2 separate regions of the Homo sapiens genome follow, and region 2 is linked to region 1. The links come from fine-mapping of genetic effects on gene expression. Tissue or cell type: whole blood. Region 1 holds a variant in brackets; the other region holds the start of a gene. All regions are shown on one strand. Distances are from middle to middle.

Evidence for each region. PIP is the estimated chance that this variant, and not a neighbour inherited with it, causes the effect.
Region 2: it holds the start of MFF-DT, and the variant in region 1 is fine-mapped to the expression of MFF-DT in whole blood (TOPMed, PIP above 0.99). The same link has a PIP of 0.9 or more in T cells, blood mononuclear cells, caudate, fetal neocortex, gastroesophageal junction and lung.

What each region holds. Positions count from the first base shown.
Region 1 is chr2:227,366,755-227,377,398 of GRCh38, reverse strand. It overlaps TM4SF20 (transmembrane 4 L six family member 20), which reads left to right. Exons shown (of 4, transcript NM_024795.4): 2 at 6,419-6,484. Among named protein-coding and RNA genes, the nearest start is that of TM4SF20, 7.2 kb to the left of the region's middle. RefSeq lists a silencer at 279-479 and an enhancer at 5,626-6,825. The variant G/A (reference allele first, on the strand shown) is at 5,583.
Region 2 is chr2:227,319,961-227,329,190 of GRCh38, reverse strand. MFF-DT (MFF divergent transcript) reads left to right here and starts at 4,027. Exons shown (of 14, transcript NR_102371.1): 1 at 4,027-4,073. MFF (mitochondrial fission factor) reads right to left here and starts at 3,940. Exons shown (of 9, transcript NM_001277062.2): 1 at 3,764-3,940; 2 at 402-513. RefSeq lists a silencer at 3,599-3,888 and enhancers at 4,069-4,118, 7,857-8,385.

The sequences.
Region 1 (10,644 bases):
ACAGAAAACACATTGCAACTCAACAGCATGAAGCAACTGTACATCCGTGTGTCTGTTTTCTTCCCTGTAGAAGGCTTCTCTCTGCTTGAGTAGTAGAAGCCTCTTTTGCATTTGCTTACACCAGAAGCCAGGAGCAGCTGGCTGAGCATGACTTAACGATAGCAATTTCCATGAAGCTCCTAGAAGTTCCTGAGTTAAGACAATCCACTTAGAATAACACATGCAGCTTTAGATATAAATTGGCTCTGCCACAAATCCCATGAGATTAAAAAAAATGTATTAGCATTAAAGGAGTCGGAGGTGGCGATGACACATACCTACATCTCCTGTATTCTTCATTTTAGGATGGTGGCGGGTGTGGCAGGGAGAGAAGAGAAAGAGAAAGGCAGAGACAGACAGAAGGACATAAGTGCTCATTTATTGGCCGTCTGCCAAAGGCCAGCTACTGGGTTCATACATTACCTTGTTATCTCATTTAGTCTCTATAATAATGTGTGCATTTATTATCACTTGAATTTTATAGGCCAGCAGATAGAAAGTTAGGAATGTTAACAAGGTCACCTAATGGATGTGAAATTCCAGATTTATCTGACGTCAAAACTCTGTTTTTCCACCAGTGCTAGTACCGTAGTCCTCAACACCTGTCTCAGGGCTGCCAGAGGTGAAAGATATAATCTATAAATTAATCCATAAAGTCAAGTGACCAGGAAACTGAGTCACAGAAAGATTATAGAAACTCGTGGAACAGTTTCAGAGAATCTGAACTTCCTCGTTCTACAGCTAAGTTTACTTTATCACCCTCAGTAAGTATTATCAAAGATATAAACACCAGACTATCTCTATTATTCTGTATTATAGAATGTCATTAAAGCATCAGACAACTCTTTGAAAAGTCCAATATGAACTTTATAGACAGAGGCTATGCCCACAAGCAAACAGGTGGGTGGTAAAAAGGGCTCAGACTACAGGTATATTTTCATGATCCTCAGATAGATAGAGAATGTGGAAGAAAGTGTTTTTCAAAGGAATTTATTAATATGTCCTTTATAATATCCATGAAAATACTCACTAGTTCAAAATACTGAGCTTTCAATATACTAGTAACTACACAAAAAAGTTAATAGAGAAGAAATCACTGCCTGTGATAAGCACTTTGGTCATAGTTCTTGAAATCTTTCCAGAATTACTGTAGTGTTTCAAATTAGTATTGTTACCAAAAATGGGATTTTGCAGGAAGTAGATAATTATACAAACTATGGAATTCATTATTGATTACATCATGAAATATATTCATTTTATGGCTTCATGACTTACTTAAAACGGAGGCGGACTTTTCATCTTCTAAAACTATGACTAAGTAAAAATGTGATGTACTTAATTATCTTTAACTTTAAATGGAAAAATCAATACAAATGTTATTTGTTCGAGTATTTTTAAAAAGATCTCAAAATGTTTCCTTGAAAACATATAAACAGAAAGGCCATTTTATTTTATATGAGGTTGTGAGCCTGATCTTAATCATGCTTATTCATTGAGTTCACTTATTAGATAATAGTAACTCATCAAAGTCAACTATTGAAGTCTTAATGGAGAACAAATTGTTGAAAGCTGGCCAGGCACGGTGGCTCATGTCTGTAATCCCAGCACTTTGGGAGGCCGAGGCGGGCGAATCACGAGGTCAGGAGATCAAGACCGTCCTGGCTAACACGGTGAAACGCCGTCTCTACTAAAAATATAAAAAATTAGCCAGGCTTGGTGGTGGGCTCCTGTTGTCCTAGCTACTCAGGAGGCTGCGGCAAGGGAATGGTGTGAACCCAGGAGGTGGAGCTCGCAGTAAGCTGAGATCGCGCCACTGTACTCCAGCCTAGGTGACAGAGCAAGACTCCATCTCAAAAGAAAAAAACAAATTGTTGAAAGTTAAACAGATGAGAAGACATTAGGCATGACAAACATTTGTAAAATATACTTTTGTGGGTTTTCTTTGGTTTTTTTTGGTCATTGTTTTTGAGACAAGGTCATGCTCTGTCACTCAAGCTAGAATGCAGTGCTGTGAGCACAACTCACTGCATCCTCAACCTCCTGGGATCAAGTGATCCTCCCACTTCAGCCTCCTCAGTAGCTGGGACTATAGGCATGCACCACTATTGCCCAGCTTATCTTAAATTTTTTTTTGGCCAGGTATGGTGGCTTATGCCTGTAATCCCAGCATCTTGAGAGGCTGAGGTGGGTAGATCACCTGAGGGCAGGAGTTCGAGACCAGCCTGGCCAACATGGAGAAACCCGTTTCTATCAAAAAATACAAAAATTAGCCAGGCATGGTGGTGCATGCCTGTAATCCCAGCTACTCGGGAGGCTGAGGCAGGAGAATCACTTGTACCCAGAGGCAGGAGTTGCAGAGAGCCGAGATTGTGCCACTGCACTCCAGCCTAGGTGACAGAGTGAGACTCTGTCTCAAAATTTTTTTTTTTTTTTTGTAGATAGGGTCTCACTATATTGCCCAGGTTGGGGTCAAACTCCTGGGTTCAAGCAAGCCTCCTGTCTTGGCCTCCCGAAGTGCCAGAATTACAGGCATGAGCCACCATGCCTGGCTGCAAAATATAGTTTTGATATTTGTAATGAGCTATGACTTTGTGTGTTACTCTCATGTTCAAGTTCTTAGAGGACTCCCAAAAGTCTGAATTTCATCACAGGATTTTTAATGGTCTGAAGTTTTTCCACACTTCATTTGTAAAATCATGTAACTTCTCAAACTAAATACAATTAGGGGGCTCTGTAAGAAAAAATCAACAATATTACTTTCCTTTTTAAAAACAAAAGACTAGCAAGACTTTTAATTTTACAAAAACTCAGGCATTCAAATATGCTTAGGAAATGAAGAGAAAGTGTGTTCTCATAATTACTCATTTTGGCAGGAGATTATCTGGAAAATTTATATATAATTCATACACACACACACACACACACCATTCACAGTTTTAGTGTCTGTCTAAAGAGCCCCTCCAATTTCCGGAGCTCTGAATGGGAAAGCGGTTGAAACCGCAGCGAGTTGTCAAATCACCAGTAACAGCATTACAAAGATGTGTTAATACGCCTTGAAGTCGGTGGGGTGGTGACTTATACACTGTAAGTAATTGTCCCTTTATAAAACCCCTTTGTAAGTGAATCATGAAAGGAAATATTTAGTAACTCTGAAATAAACTTATCTTCAAGAAAGTTACCAGAGTTCAGTTTGCATCAACAAGGAAAATAGAACAATTTATCCATTTAAGTTGTAATGTCAATCCACTTTTTTTTTTTTTTTTTTTTTTTTAGACAGGGTCTCACTTTGTCATCTAGGCTGGAGTACACTTGCACTTTCTTTTAAAAGAATCATTAATTTTCTAAATCTGTAGCTGGCAAACTGTAAATATTCAGCCAATATTTTCGGTTTATAAACCAGCCTCTTCCACATATTTTTTTTTTTTTTTTTTTGAGACGGAGTCTCGCTCTGTCACCAGGCTGGAGTGCAGTGGCGCGATCTCGGCTCACTGCAACCTCTGCCTCCCGCGTTCAAGCGAGTCCTCTGCCTCAGGCTCCCTGGTAGCTGGGACTACAGGCACGTGCCACCAAGCCCGGCTAATTTTTTGTATTTTAGTAGAGATGGGGTTTCACCATGTTGGCCAGGATGGTCTCGATCTCCTGATCTCGTGATCCGCCCACCTTGGCTTCCTGAAGTGCTGGGATTACAGACGTGAGCCACCGCGCCCGGCCTCTTCCACACAATTTAACTCTACTCTTGGTGCACAAAAGTAGCCATAGACAATATGTAAATACATGGATGTGACTGTGTTCCAATAAAACTTTATTTACAAGAAAGAGGTGGTGGGCCATAGTTTGCCAGTTCCCGTTCTAAATGATTTGTCCTGTAAGCTCAAAAGGCAGTACAGCTTATGTGTACAATAAAAGATGTTTAGTGCACGAATACTGATACCTATTTGGGAGCTAAAATTTCTTTTCCCTTTTCTTCTGGGCTTTCAGCTATGCGCCAAGGTGGCTAGGCAGCCATATACACATGTGGCCTCTAAATAAGGAGGGTGGTGGTGTTCAAGGCAATGTGTAAGCAAAGCTTGATAATAATACAAAGTGACATGGAGGCAGTACATCATCAGATGGAGTGAGGTTTGTTAGGAAAGCTGCCTTGTAAAGAGGCATAAACTTTAAACCCGTGCTAAAAGAATAAAGGCAGATGTGGCCTTGGATAAATGAATCAGAGTGGGAGTAACTGGAAGGACAATGAGATGGGCAAGGGTGAAGGCAGCAGGGAAGATGAGAATGAACAAACTCTAGGTAGGAATAGGGGAGAATTGTAAGACTTGAGTCAGTGTGGAATAGGGATTAAGAGTCCCGGCTGAGCACAGAGGCTCACCTGTAATCTCAATGCTTTAGGAGGCCGAGGCGATCACTTGAGCCCAGGAGTTCGAGACCAGCCTGGGCAACATGGCAAAATCCCCGTCTCTACAAAAAAATGCCCCCCAGAATAAATTAAAACTAACAGGGCGTGATGGCATGCATCTGTAGTCCCAACGACTCGGGAGGCTGAGGTGGGAGGATCACTTGAGCCCTGGGTGTTGAGGCTGCAGTGAACCGTGATCATGCCACCGCACTTCAGCCTGGGTGACAGAGTGAGACCCTGTCTCAAAAAAACAAAACAAAACAAAAAACTATGTGGGCTCTGCACCCCAAATGACTAGCTTTTTTTGTTGTTGTTGTTTGTTTTTTTGAGATAGAGTCTCGCTCTGTCGCCAGGCCGGAGTGCAGTCACATGATCTCAGCTAACTGCAACCTCTGTCTCCCAGGTTCAAGTAATTCTGCCTCAGCTTCCTGAGTAGCTGGGGCTACAGGTGTGCACCACCTCGCCCAGCTAATTTTTGTATTTTTAGTAGAGACGGGGTTTCCTCATGTTGGCCAGGCTGGTCTCGATCTCCTGACCTCGTGATCCACCCACCTCGGCCTCCTAAAGTGCTGGGATTACAGACATGAGCCACCGCGCCCAGCCAAATGACTAGTTTTGAATCCCAACCCTTCTACCAAGAAAGTAGAAGGACAATTTGAGTAATTTGTCCTTTCTATGCCTCAGTTTTCTCATTGGTAAAATGGGAATAATAATAGCACCTACCTCATAGGATTATTATGAGGATGGAATAAACTAAGGCGTGTAAAGTGCCTGTAACAGAGTCTGGCATTCGCCAGAGCTCGGGAAAATGTTAGAGAATGAGAGTAGAAGGAGAGAGAAAAACCACTCAAGGGCAGCTGTGCTGAGATGGCAAAAAAACCTACGCCTAAAATTTCTCAAGCGGAAGGAAATAATTACATTCCACCCTTCAATGATACAAAACTCCTTCCAGTAAGAATTTCTAGTCGTAGCTGCTGCCTAGATATACTAAAAATTGAAACCCAAGTCCTGAGAATATGGTGTTCTTTCTTACAGCTTTCCTTGGCAACGTGTATTTCCCTGAAGGCAGAATGCGATCTATAGATTTCTGAGCATCAATATATAAAGTGAGATCATTACATATCATGGATATAGGAAGAGAAAGGAGAAC[G/A]TGGAACCAAAAATAATTCTCAAATATAAGTTTGGGGAAACCAGCAAGATAGCCGGGATCCTGGGAAAAGAAAGGCTAGTGGGAGTGGGTGGTGACAGAATGATTTGTTCCCAACTGCCAGGCAAACAAAACCATCAATTTCTTTTCTGCAGGTTTGCCAGAATAATCCATACAATTTCTGGGAAATCGGGCCAGGCGTAATGGCTCACATCTTTAGTTTTCTTGGCAGGAGGTTTTCTTGAGGCCAGGAGTTCAGGACCAGTCTGGGCAACAGAGTGAGATCTTGCTTCTACAAAAATATTTTTAAAATTAGCCAGGTGTGGTGGTCTACACCTGTGGTCCTAGCTACTCAGGAGGCTAAGGCAGGAGGATTATTTGAGCCCAGGAGTTCAAGGCTACAGTGAGCTATGCTCGTATCACTGCACTCTGGCCTGGGTAAGAGAGTGAGACCCCTACTCTTTAAACAAACAAACAACAGAGTTTGGATGATGCAGCCAATTCTTTCAGAAACATTTCTTCCAAAAATAATGTATAAATAAGTCATCCTAATCTATTTAAAATCCAATTCTCTGCAGATGACTCAGAGTGAACTAAGAATGTAGATAGAAGACTTCAAAACTCCTGTCTTGAATTCCCCTGTTCCCGCCGCCACTTTTAATCTTTCTGGTTGAAACTGGGATGACAAGGTTCACAAAACCACGGATATTGCCAAATTCCCTTTTTGTTCTTTGAGCCTTGATTTCCCACAACTGGTGGTAAACGGAAGGTGAAGATTACTATTTTTTCTTCTGATGAGAAGTTATAATACTCATCTTTCCTGTTGATGTCATTTCCAGGCCATTCCAGCAACAACAATGTCCTTGACAGCAAGAAAAAGAGCGTGCTGCAACAACAGAACTGGAGTAAGTATGAAGCAGTCGGCGTGGAAGCAGAAGTGCATGAACAGTTATTGCTACCTAAGCAAAGCCACACTGAGTCACTCGCATCTACCGAATCACAGTGGGGCTCCACTGACAGAGCCACAGCCTTAGAAACATGCTATTTTTATTTATTTATTTAGAGACAGGGTCTTGCTCTGTTGCTGAGACTGGAGTGCAGTGGTGCGATCTCGGTTCACTGAAACTTCTGCCTCCCGGGATCAAGCAATTCTCCTGCCTCAGCCTCCTGAATAGCTGGGACTACAGGTGCACACCATCACGCCCAGCTAATTTTTGTATTTTTAGTAGAGATGGGGGTTTCAACATGTTGGTCAGGCTGGTCTCAAACTCCTGACCTCGAGTGATCTGCTCGCCTCGGCCTCCCAAAGTGCTGGGATTACAGGTTTGAGCCACTGCGCCTGGCCTGAAACATGCTATTTAGGATGATTATATAGAAGTAGAAAAAGTGAGACGGGTTTTTTTGTCCCACAAACATTTAGAGTTGGCCTTCTGTCCCTTCCTCAGTCTTCCGTGGATTGTCCTTTCCTCAATCTAAAGGTTTTCAAAGAAAGGAGATTGGTAAGTCACGCCCACAGCTGCAATCAATTTCATAATACTCGGGTGTGATATTTTTGTGGCGTATATAAAATACTCAGGGAAAATGTACTCAGTTCTCTCATGCAATGACAGACTGGTTTGCTAGGATTAGAATGACAATTGCCTTTATCCAGTTAAATTAAAGGAGCTGCCAGGTTTTTTTCCCCCAAAACATTTAATGCCTACCCACTATGTATAAAGTCGTAACGAAGTTAAAAGTAAATTAAGATTCATTAACCGGAGTGTCACTCTGCTCAGAACACTTTCAGAGATGCTGTTTCATTTAATTCTCTCAAAACCCTTAAGTGGGAAAAAGTAAGAAGTGTGTTTGATTGACGAAGGAATGGACGCTCAGAGAAAGTAAATAATTTGCCAGTGTAGCACACTAGTAAGTGGATTTTTATCCAAACCCACTGGAGCACCCCACAATTCATGATCTTTATACCATGAACATGGCTATTAAGCAACATAAGGACTCTCACAATTCCCTGTGGAAGGGGTAGATTGACAGCAAGCAGTCACAGTAAATCTGCTTGGCTGAGCTTGAGCTTTCAGAGCAATGGTTCTCAGATGGATGGGAACATTAGGCTGGGCACGGTGGCTCACAGCACTTTGGGAGGCTGAGGTGGGAGGATCACTTGAGGTCTAGAATTCAAGACCAGCCTGGCCAACATGGTGAAACCCCGTCTCTACTAAAAATACAAAAATTAGCTGGGCACGGTGGCCCATGCCTGTAATCCCAGATACTCAGAAGGTTGATGCAGGAGAATCTCTTGAACCCAGGAGGCAAAGGTTTCAGTGAGCCGAGATCACATCACTGCACTTCAGCCTGGGCAACAGATGAGTAAGACTCTCTCAAAAAAAAAAAAAAAAAAGACAGATGGGGATATTAGAATTATCTAAAGAGATTTAAAAAAATACCAGTGCCTGGGTGGCCGCCAGAGATTCTGCATCAGTATTTTTCAAAAGCACTCAAGATAATTTGGCCAGGGGTTAGAACCACTACTTAAAAAAAACAAACCAGATATTTCTATCCATAATGGAAGATTCATATTTTTAAAAATTACCCTTTTTCTGACATTTGATATTTATCTAGGATTACAATAATTATGCTAATTAGTTCTAGTCTATTTTTGTCTGAATACATTTTAGGTATTCAATAAACACTAATTTTCAGTTTCCCTTCCCTGTCACTTTTCTTTGTAAACGATAATAATTTGGAATTTGACTTTGTATCTTTTCTATGTGGTGTTCACAACATTCTTGACATCCTGAGACATTTCTGAATTCCTGAAATCAAAAATATCAAAACACTTATATAGGCTTTTCCGATAGGTGTATCCTCTAAGAACTGGTTTTTATGTCGTATCTGGTGTCTTTGAGGCCTAGATAAGACCAAAACATGAGACAAGTGGCAAAGGCAACATCTTGGGAGGAAGGGAAAGGGTTGACCAAGGCTTGTCCCCTATTTTAACTGTTCTTTGCTTCTTCCCTTTTTCCAGTTCTTATTTTTGCTTCTGAATACAAAATGGTTTTGCTGAATCATTTAAGTGAATCCCCTTTAGGGGAAATACACATGCCTGGAATCACTTTCTAAAGCCAGGCCTTTTGTAGGGATGAGAACTCAAAGATAATATGGCTGGGTGCGGTGGCTCACGCCTGCAATCCCAGCACTTTGGGAGGCTGAGGTGGGCGGATCACTTGAGTTCAGGAGTTTGAAACCAGCCTGGCCAATATGGTGAAACCCTGTCTCTACTAAAAATACAAAAAATAAAAATAAAAAAATTAGCCAGGTGTAGTGGCGGGCATCTGTAATCCCAGCTACTTGGGAGGCTGAGGCAGGAGAATTTCTTGAACCCAGGAGGCAGAGGTTACAGTGAGCCCAGATAGCGCCACTGCACTCTATCCTGGGAAACAAAGAAAGGCTCCGTCTCAAAAACAAAAAATTATATATATATATATATATAAATAATAGATGGCGGCCAGGCGTGGTGGCTCACGCCTGTAATCCCAGCACTTTGGGAGGCTGAGGCGGGCGGATCACAAGGTCAGGAGATGGAGACCATCCTGGTTAACAGGGTGAAACCCCATCTCTACTAAAAATACAAAAAATTAGCCGGGCGTGGTGGCGGGTGCCTGTAGTCCCAGCTACTCAGGAGGCTGAGGCAGGAGAATGGCGTGAACCCGGGAGGCGGAGCTTGCAGTGAGCCGAGATCATGCCACTGCACTCCAGCCTGGGCGACACAGCGAGACTCCGTCTCCAAAAAAAAAAAAAAAAAAAAATAGATGGTTAAAAATAAACACCATGGCACTTCTTGATGAGTACATTTAAGTAACTGCACAAGTCACAGTAGCATGGAAGAATCAGGATTTGAAGTAGACTCCAAATCCATCATTCTGAACTTTTGGCTGGAAGAAGAATAGTGATTAAAGTGTTTCCCAGCTGTGAGAGCCTGACAAGTTTTGTCCATCTCCATGATACACAGTTTTCTCATCTATAAAATGGAAATAATAATAGTATCTACCTCTTGGGATTATGAAAAGAATTAAATGAGATGATATATGTAGAGCACAACATCCCTCAACACAACTCTATAGGTAGCCACCTTATTCTGCACTCATAAAAGGCAGGTCTCAAGAACACAACACACAGACCCTGTGGGAGCTGCATTATCCCAGCAAAGAAAAAGGAAAAGCATTCCCTCGCTTCATTTCTGCTGATTTTGAAATAATCATCAGTGACTAACAACTTCACTGAAACAATACAAAAGTTTCCTTCTTTTTTTTTTCTTTTAGAGATGGGCTCTTACTACGTTGCCCAGGCTAGTCTCGAACTCCTGGGCTCAAGCAATCTACCCTCCTTGGCCTCCCAAAGTGCTGGGACTACAGGCATGAGCCACTGTGCCTGGCCTAAGAGCTTATTTTTGGAAAAACAAACACGAACTTTCATTCAGTTTCCTATGCCAAATTCCATGCCTTCTTCTGCTCTCATGACTGACTCACGAAATAAAGATGTGTACAATCTTTCTAACACAGTGGCTCTCAACCGGCGGGTTATTTTACCCACCCACCTCCACCCCAAGAGGATATTTGGCAATGCCTGGAGACATTTTTGGTTGTCAGAACCGGGCTGGAGGTGGCAAGGCGTCGGGGGATGATATTGGCATCTAGTGGGTAGAGATGAGTGATGTTGCTAAATATCCTACACTGCACAGGAAAGGCCCCACAGCGAAGTGTGCAAATGTCATTGGTGCTGAGGTTGGGAAGTCCTGTTCTAACTCTATGCTGTTGACTGATCACTGTGGGATGCTGGCCACTGGCCACTTAAAGCATCAGGGCCAAATTCACTTAAAGCATCAGGGCCAAACGCTTGCGAGCCAAGAGACCAGACATGAAGATAAACGTAGTTAAGATCCAGTCAAGATTCTATGAAGTAGGAAGTACATAAAACAGGGAGGAACTAGATCTCAGTGGTCAGAAGAAACAGATGAGACTCAGGAATATGAAAGTTGAGATTTTCCAGAGACAGTGACAAGCCAAACCATCTT
Region 2 (9,230 bases), 48 kb after region 1:
TATTTGACGTCTAATGGTTTCTTTAAATAAAAATAAACTTCAAAATTTAGGGTAAACTTCAAATGGAAATTACACTAAATTTTCAGCAAAGACACTATATATAAATTAAAGACATAAAAAGTTAAAGACAGTATACATGACTTTACCATGGCTAAGGTATTTCCTAAACTCCATGCTGGAGATATAGCCCCACCCTAAGCCCCCGCCTCACTGAGATGCCTAGGAGAGCTCTTAGAGGTTGCTCAGGACGCTCAGCCCCAGCAACTGGTTTGACTATGACTGCTAACTCACATCTTTTATTCTTTATCAAAAAATCTCTGGGGACATAGATCTTTAAGGATTTGGCATGCAGACGATTTAAAGACTAAGAAAGTAAGCCAAAAGGGACCATTTTTACTCACAAATGTGTAACAACTACTGCTTGCTATTTGGCACTATCTGCTTCTGTGCTTCATATTAAATCCTTTAACTTGCTTCAATGTGCATGTGCTGGATTGAGAGCCACTTTTGTCCCTGGGGAAGAAAAACAGGGGCTAATTGAGAAACTAGATGAAACCACTATTAGGGATTCATTACTGGAAATTCTCCAAATAGTAACAGTCACAAAGATGCACAACCTGACATCAAGAGACCAGTAAGAAAATAAAGAAAGAAAAAAATTAAGCTTACCACCAATCTTAGTTCCACAGATGGGGTCCTACAACTATTCATTAGTTAAGGCAATATAAAAGACTAGCTCTGTCATTGTTTCTGATTTGTATTTAGAAAAATGTGGCAGATGAAAAATACGTAAGTTTAAATGAATCTAATACTTACGTATATATATGCATATAGGTACACATATATGTTAAAGAAGAACAAATGAATTGGTTTTTTTTTTTTTTTTTTTTTTTTTGTCACCCGGGCTAGATTGCAATGGAGCTTCCTGAATAGCTGGGACTACAGGCATATGCCACCACACCCAGCTAATTTTTGTATTTTTTGTTGAGACAGGGTCTTATTATGTTGTTCAGGCTGATCTCAAACTCCTAGGCTCAAGAAATCCTCTGGCCTTCGTCTCCTAAAGTGCTGGGACTACAGGTGTGAGCCACCGTGCCCGGCCTGTTTAAATTTTCATTCACTTACGATGTTAAAATTTTGAACTAGTAATGCATGTACTCGGTACAAAGTACGCAAGCTATACAGAGAAAAGGAAGTGTCCCACTTTCAATCCTATCCTTAACCACCCAGGTTCCCACAGGCAACCTTTATAATCAATTTTTGTGCATCATTCCAGATGAGATGCTCTTCTAATACTTGCGTGTATCTCAAGCATAGCAAAAGCTCATATTCAGAACTAACACTGAAAAAAGCTACCTCAAAAAGATTATAGCCTTTGGCCATTATAAATTGAAGTTTTATAATAATAAACGAGAACCAAGTGGCTAGAACCTCAGTATCTCCTTGAAATGTGCTTTCTCTGCATTCCATTCATTGCATTTCAGTCTTACGAACTTTCTAGTAGTACATCTCATAGGTCTCACTACTATATTCCATTCTATAGCAACATCTTTTCTTACGAGAATATCTGAGTTTGTAAAAAACTAGTGACTTAGAAAATAAAGGTGGATGCTGAAATGCCAACTTCTGGAAAAAGCCAAGTTCTCCTGTAGCTGAACTACTTACATTTAAAAAGTAACTGGATTTCTACTAAGATTTAACACTGTATTATCCCAATTATTGGGTTTTCTGCTTAAAACCAATCAAAATCTGATTTTTTTTCTCCCTCGTTAGACTGTGGCATTTCTGATAATATCTTTTGGCAATAAATAAACGTCTCATTTGGTGTTGATATGTTAATTCCAGAAGTTTTGTACCTTAGAATCCAGTAGGCAACCAGTACGTGATTCTGTTACATAACAAACGAGGCAAAATCTCTCTTAGAATCACAGATGATTTCATATTTCTACTTTCTAAGCCCAGTGGTTCCCAAACACCAGTAACTAACTTGCCAACTTCATGGGTTTTTTTTTTCCCATATTCACAGAGTACATTAACTTTTTGCTACAGTTAATTTTTTTAACTCGACTTTTTAAAATCAAAAAAGTATTGTAAAAGAAAATTTTGTATCACTACCTTAAACCATGGCTGTACATATATAAATACAGATTGCAAAAACATCCTATTACAAAAAAATCCTCATCCACGTACCGCCTAGAGTCAAGTCACATGCCACTAGCGGAAAGTGTACCAATTTTGGGACACAATGATTCCAGCCCAACTTTCTCATTTTCTGTATTAGAACACTGGAACCCAGAAAGCCTCGGAAGTCACCGAAACAACTTGAGTCAAACTGACTGTGGTTGCAAATGTTTATGTACTTTTCAAAAACAAACATACAAACAAACAAAAACAAACCAAAAAAAACCCTCCAGTTGTTTATTACCTACTGCGTGGACCTAGTTCACACAGATGGGCCACTCTGCACACCCTGTTTCAGTTCTTTTTCAAAGAAACTATATTTAAAAAGTCACTGCAAACTTTTAAAACTATATATTAATGAACTTTAAAATAAGGTTATGAACCCACAGAAAAGTTTCAATACCAGAAGAGAGGAGAGCGAAGACTAAACTTTGCAATTCTGAAAGGAGGCAGCTCTATCAGACAGGAAGGGAGAGAACACAATTTCCTTTTGGAAAAAATGGCAAAACCAATATACAAGCCTTTGAAACCAAAAGATAGAAGGTCCCCCAAGCAATTTAATTGCATGGGAAAAGACTACTAAGTATAACTAAATCGTCCTAATTTTCCTAAGGGTTTTTCTTTTGGGCTCTCATTAGCCAACGGAATTGAGGCAGAAAAAATGTTTTTCACGCAGGGAGACAAAACATTTGTGATCATCTTAAGTCTCTCGGTGGATGAGAGGCCTGAATACAAATGGTTCTATATTTGGGCAGAAGGGCCAGAAACCTTTTTTTTTTTTTTCCCCTTTAATGTTCTCCAATGAAAACATGTCACTTTTGAAAGGGTGCTCTTCCCTCGAGAATGCCCTTTGCTTCTAACTTTGTGGGAGGTAGACAGGGGTGTTCTTTTACGATAGTAATAGTAGCACACGTCCTGCAGAGGAAGGTCAGAAGCTCGGCGGAACAGGAACCGCAGCTTTCCTCCGGCTTCCCAGCTCCTGGAAGGAAACCCGAGAGCAACTGCCTGCAGCCACATCTGCGAGCAGGGATGCTCACAGACGGACAGGGTGGCCCGCAGCCACCCGCGATGCCACAACCTGGGCTTCCAACAAGGCCCTTCTTTTCCAAAATGTACTTGCCACAAAACAACACAAAAACCTCCTTTTAAACAAGGCAGGTTTAAGGTCAGCCTGTAAGGTGTCAGGGCCTTGGCAGGGAAGGATGAGTGAAGACCTGCAAAGCCCGGCGTTCACGCTCACGGGACTCCCGCTGCTTCCCAAACCCCTATTTTCCAGTCGGAAAAGTCCGGGTTAATACACAAAAGGAGACGCCGAACCACACAAGGTGAAGAGGTTCGCCCAAAAACACCTGCAGAAGACGCTCCTCTCCCTCGCTCTCCTCGGGGACTCAAGGTCCCGGGGAGGAGGAAAGACCAGGGTTGAAGGCAAGAGGCCCGGGGACGGGACTCGGGTCAGGGAGACACTACCGGGGGGGCCGGGGCCACCGCGGGTCCCTGTTGGCCGGAGGGTCTCGGCGGCGGCGATAGGCCTGGCAGCCAGCTCGGGCGGCAGGTCGCGGGTCGGGAAGACGTCAACACTCACCCCTGGGCCCACAGGAGGGTCCCGGCGAGGACCCCCGCCCTCTGGCTCCCGGGGCGCTCGAGTGGGCGCTCTCAGAGGTGGTTGGCTGAGAGCACGGAGGCGCCCAGGGACAGCACCGGCGGAGCGGCCCGCAGAGGGCCAGGGCAGAAGCGCGAAAGGCGCGGGCTGGCCCCTTCTGGGAGCCGTAGCGGAAGAGTGTTCGTGGTCATGTGACGCGGAAAAGGGCGGACGCGTGGCCCACGCACTGGAACGGCTCCACGGTAAGCGATGCGCAGACATCTTTGTTGTGGGCGAAACGAGGTGACCGCAGGTGACTCCTCTTGCGGTTAAGTTTAATTCACACTTCGGCTTTATTAGATTTTGTAATCTTTAAGAACTTGGTGTTTGCAAGGTAAACCTTTGGTAGCCAATTAAAACAACTTTTTCAGGACCATCTGGCATGAAAATTTCTATGCTGTGAGGCTTAGGAATTCTCATATGTAAATCAGCTCCGCCAGTGATTCCATGAGTTCCAATTTGATACTTCTTAAGCCCTCGGTTGATCAGACCTTGTCTTCCATGAGAATTCCGGGAGAGGGGAAGTTAAGTTTCACAGTAGTTGGCGGCATCGTTTAGCTTTGGGAGAGCACTCTCTGCTTCTGAACACCCAACCACAGACTCTTCCCCCCAGGAAGCCCTTGCTTAGAGCGGGGGAAAAATGGTACAGTGCTTGTCAGTATGGGAATGTACTGAGGCCAAATAATGTGATATTTTATATGCCTTGGTTTTCACAAACACCTAAAGGTGTACACATGACTTATGTACTCCCCTACGATCTAATTGATATTCTAGAGATGTTACCATTCTTCAAAATGATTTGGGAAGCCCTCTGAATTGCGTTCTTGGGCTTCTTAACACTGGTGTAGGGAAAGTGAAAATATTTCCTCTCCCCTCTTGGGGTCTTGGCTGGGCCTAAGAATTAAACTGATGAGGAAAAGAGTCAAACTCTAAAATATTTGAAGAGATTTATTCTGAGCCAAATGTGAGTGACCATGGCCCGTGACAGAGCCCTCAGGAGGTCCTGAGAACATGTGTCCAAGGTGGTTGGGGCGCAGCTTGGTTTTATGTATTTTAGGGAGGCATGAGACATCAATCAAATAAATTTAAGAACTACATTGGTTTGGTTCAGAAAGGTGGGACAACTCAAAGCAGGGGCTTCCAAGGCTGTAGGTAAATTTAAACATTTTCTGGTTGACAGTTGAAGACCTGGGACCCATAGAAAGGAAATGTTGAGGTTAAAATAAAAGATTGTGGAGACCAAGGTTCTTTTGAAGTCTTATAGTGGCTGCCCTTAGAGACAATGGATGACAAATGTTTCCTATTCAGATCTTTAAAAGGTGCTAGATTCTTACGTAATCTCTTTAGGATTGGGAGGACCTGGAAGAAAATGATCTAGCTATGTTAATAGAAATTCTATGTAGATGCAGATTTTCCCCCAACAAAGGACAGCTTTGCAGAGCCGTTTCAAGATATGTCAAAAACTAAAAAAAATGTTTTGCGGTAAAATATTTTGATTTTGTTTCTTGTCTCGTTATGCCAGTGTCAGATTGGAAAGTAAGTCACAATATATAGGGTTAAATAAAACCCATCTGATGAGAATTTATGGATTGTAGGGCATGAATCCCTAGGCCCCTTAGATAGGAATTTGAGCAAGATTAAAAAAAAAATCAGAGCTTAGTCTCCACTGACGTAAAATAGAGACATAAAACATAACAGGAGGAAAGCATACAAATTTTATTTAGTAATTTTTACATTTACATTGGAGCCTTCCCTAGAAAAATGGAGACCCAAATTAACAGTTGGACCCTAAGTGCTTTTGAGTCTCCATTTTTCTAGGGAAGGCTAAAAAGAGTAGTAAATTGTGAAAATGTGAGAAAACAAACAGATTTGGGTTAGTGCAGTTAATGCAGAAGTGACTAAGAAGATAAAGGTTGTTGTAACAAAGTGGAAATGAAAATCGGTAAGTTTGTGCAGATACAGCTCAGCTTTGACTCCATGTCTCTGGTGTTGAGAACATCTCCCTTCCTCCTTATACAGGGAGGGCACCTTTCATACGGAAGTTTTATCTCCTGCTTTCAGGAAGGAAAAAGGAAAGCCACAGTGCTCTTTTTGCATTTTTTTTTTAAGTGCCTTTGACTCGAAAATAATCTTTATGCCAAAGTGCCATATTTTGGGTTGGCATATCCTACTATTGACAGAGCAGAAGCACTGCCATTTTAAAGTGCCCCTTGATCAAAAACCACCTAAATCCAACCCAGAGGGCATCAGCCTAATGGCTGTCAGCATGACCACAAACCACAAATGACACCTCCGACCAGAAACATTCTAACTCTAAGATAAACCCCTCTCCCACCAGACACATGCCAGCCCCAAGATAACCTTCCCTCTGACCGAGCGATGTCAGCCCCAAGATAACCTTCCCTCTGACCGGAGCGATGTCAGCCCCAAGATAACCCCTCCCCTCCAACCAGAGACATTCCAACCCTGTAATAAACTTCTCCTCCAAGCAGAAATATTCCAAGCCTGTGATAAGCTCTCTCACCCTAAACCCTTAAATACTCTTAGTCTGTAAGAGAGAGTGCTCCTGACCAAAATTGGCCAGAAGCCCCTCTCAGGTTTATTCTCTAAAATAAACCTATCCTTGATTGTTGAGCCACTTTTTGTGTTTCTCTCTTCTTTCTTTAACTCTTAACAACTACCCTACAGAGACAAATAAGCCTTTAAGAATAGATTGATTTTTAGGAATAATAAGTCATTCCAAGTCAATCTTTTGTGGGAAGATAGAGATCAAGTTGGGAGATCATGCATTAGGTTGGTTCTGAGGACTAAGCTCTGATTTTTTTATCTTGCTCAAATTCCTATCTAAGGGGTTTGGGGAGTCATGTTCTCCAAACCATAAATGCACATCAGATGGGTTTTATTTAACCGTGTATATCATGACTTACTTTCCAATCTGACTCTGGCATAATAAGGAAGAAAATAAAAATATTTTACCCAAAAATATCTTTCCTTGCCCTACCTTGAAATTGTCCTGCAAAGTCTCTTATGGGAAAAATCCACATTCTGTAGAGAATCTGCTTTCCCCTTTGTTTTCCTTCCTTCTGTGTCCGGAATTGGTGGGTTCTTGGTCTCGCCGACTTCAAGAATGAAGCTGCGAATACTTGCGGTGAGTCTTACAGTTCTTAAAGATGGTGTGTCATGTGTCCGGAGTTTGTTTCTTCAGATGTTCAGATGTGTCCGGAGTTTCTTCCTTCTGGTGGGCTCATGGTCTTGCTGGCTTCAGGAGTGGAGCTGCAGACCTTTGCGGTGACTGTTACAGCTCTTAAAGGCAGCACATCTGGAGTTGTTCATTCCTCCTGTCCAGAGTTATTTGTCCCTCCTGGTGGGTTTGTGGTCTTGCTGGCTTCAGGAGTGAAGCTGCAGACCTTCGCGGTGAGTGTTACAGCTCATAAAGGCAGCGTGGACCCAAAGAGTGAGCAGCAGCAAGATTTATTGCAAAGAGCAAAAGAACAAAGCTTCTACAACATGAAAGGGGACCCCAGCAGGTTGCTGCTGCTGGCCCAGTCAGCCTGCTTTTATTCCTTTATCTGGCCCCCACCCACATCCTGCTGATTGGTCCATTTTACAGAGAGCTGATTGGTCCATTTTACAGAAAGCTGATTGGTCCATTTTGACAGGGTGCTGATTGGTGCATTTACAATCCCTGAGCTAGACACAGAGTGCTGATTGGTGCATTTACAATCCTCCAGCTAGACATAAAAGTTCTCCAAGTCCCCACCAGATTACTAGACACAGAGCACTGATTGTTGCGTTTACAAACATTTAGCTAGACAGAGAGTGCTGATTGATGCATTTACAATCCTCTAGCTAGACATAAAAGTTCTCCAAGTCCCCACTAGATTAGCTAGACACAGAGCACTGATTGGTATGTTTACAAACCTTTAGCTAGAGACAGAGTGCTGATTGATGCATCTACAATCGTCTAGCTAGACATAAAAGTTCTCCAAGTCCCCACTGGATTAGCTAGACACAGAGCACTGATTGGTGCGTTTACAAACCTTTAGCTACACACAGAGCACTGATTGGTGTGTTTACAAACCTTGAGCTAGACACAGAGTGCTGATTGGTGCATTTACAATCCTCTAGCTAGACGTAAAAGTTCTCCAAGTCCCCACCAGATTAGCTAGATACAGAGTGCTGATTGGTGCATCCACAAACCCCGACCTAGACACAGAGTGCTGATTGGTGCATATACAATCTTCCAGCTAGACATAAAAGTTCTCCAAGACCCCACCTGACTCTAGAGTCCAGTTGGCTTTGCCTAGTGGATCCTGTGCTGGGGCTGTGGGCAGAGCTGCCCTCCAGTCCCGTGCTGCGCACATGCACACCTCAGCTCTTGTGCGGTCGATGGGACCAGGCGCCGTGGAGCAGGGGGCGGTGCCCATCAGGGAGGCTCAGGCTGTGAGGGAGCCCATGGTGGGGGTGGCTCGGGCATGGTGAGCTGCAGGTCCTGAGCCCTGCCCCGTGGGGAGGTGGCTGAGGCCCGGTGAGAATCCAAGCGTGGCGCAGGTGGGCTGGTAGTGCTGGGGGACCCGGCGCACCCTCTGCAGCTGCTGGCCTGAGTGCTAAGCCCCTCACTGCCTGGGGCCAGCGGTGCTGGCCGGCCACTTTGAGCGTGGGGCCTGCCAAGCCCGCACCCACACGGAACGCGTGCTGGCCTGCGAGCACTGCACACAGCCCTGGTTCCTGCCTGCGCCTCTCCCCCCACACCTCCCTGCAAGCTGAGAGAGCCGGCTCTGGCCTCGACCAGCCCAAAGAGGGGCTCCCACAGTGCAGCGGCAGGCTGAAGGGCTCTTCAAGCATGGCCTGAGCGGACGCCGAGGCCGAGGAGGAGCTGAGAGTGAGCGAGGGCTGCTAACACGTTGTCACCTCTCACTTCCTTTCCAGATCTAGGAGATAATCAGCTAAGAGCCAGGCACCCATTTAGTTCCGATAAGAAACAAAATTTTACAACCTACTGTCTCTCTAAAGTCCTGCTGAGAGCTTCCTCTGCACAATAAAACTGGGTCTCCACAGTCCTTTATCTTAACCTGAACAGTTCCTTTCTGTGGGTCCCAGGTCTTCAGATAAACTCAACCAATTGTCAACCAGAAAATGTTTAAATTTACCTATAGCCCAGAAGCCCCTACTTTGAATTGTCCCGCCTTTCTGAACCAAACCAGTATATTTCTTAAATGTATTTGATTGATGTCTCATGCCTCCTTAAAATATGTAAAGCCAAGCTGCTCCCCGACCACCTTGGGCACATGTTCTCAGGACCTCCTGAAGGCTGTGTCACGGGCCATGGTCACTCATATTTGGCTCAGAATAAATCTCTAAAAATATTTTATGGAGTTTGACTTTTTTCATCAACAGTGCAAAGGTAATT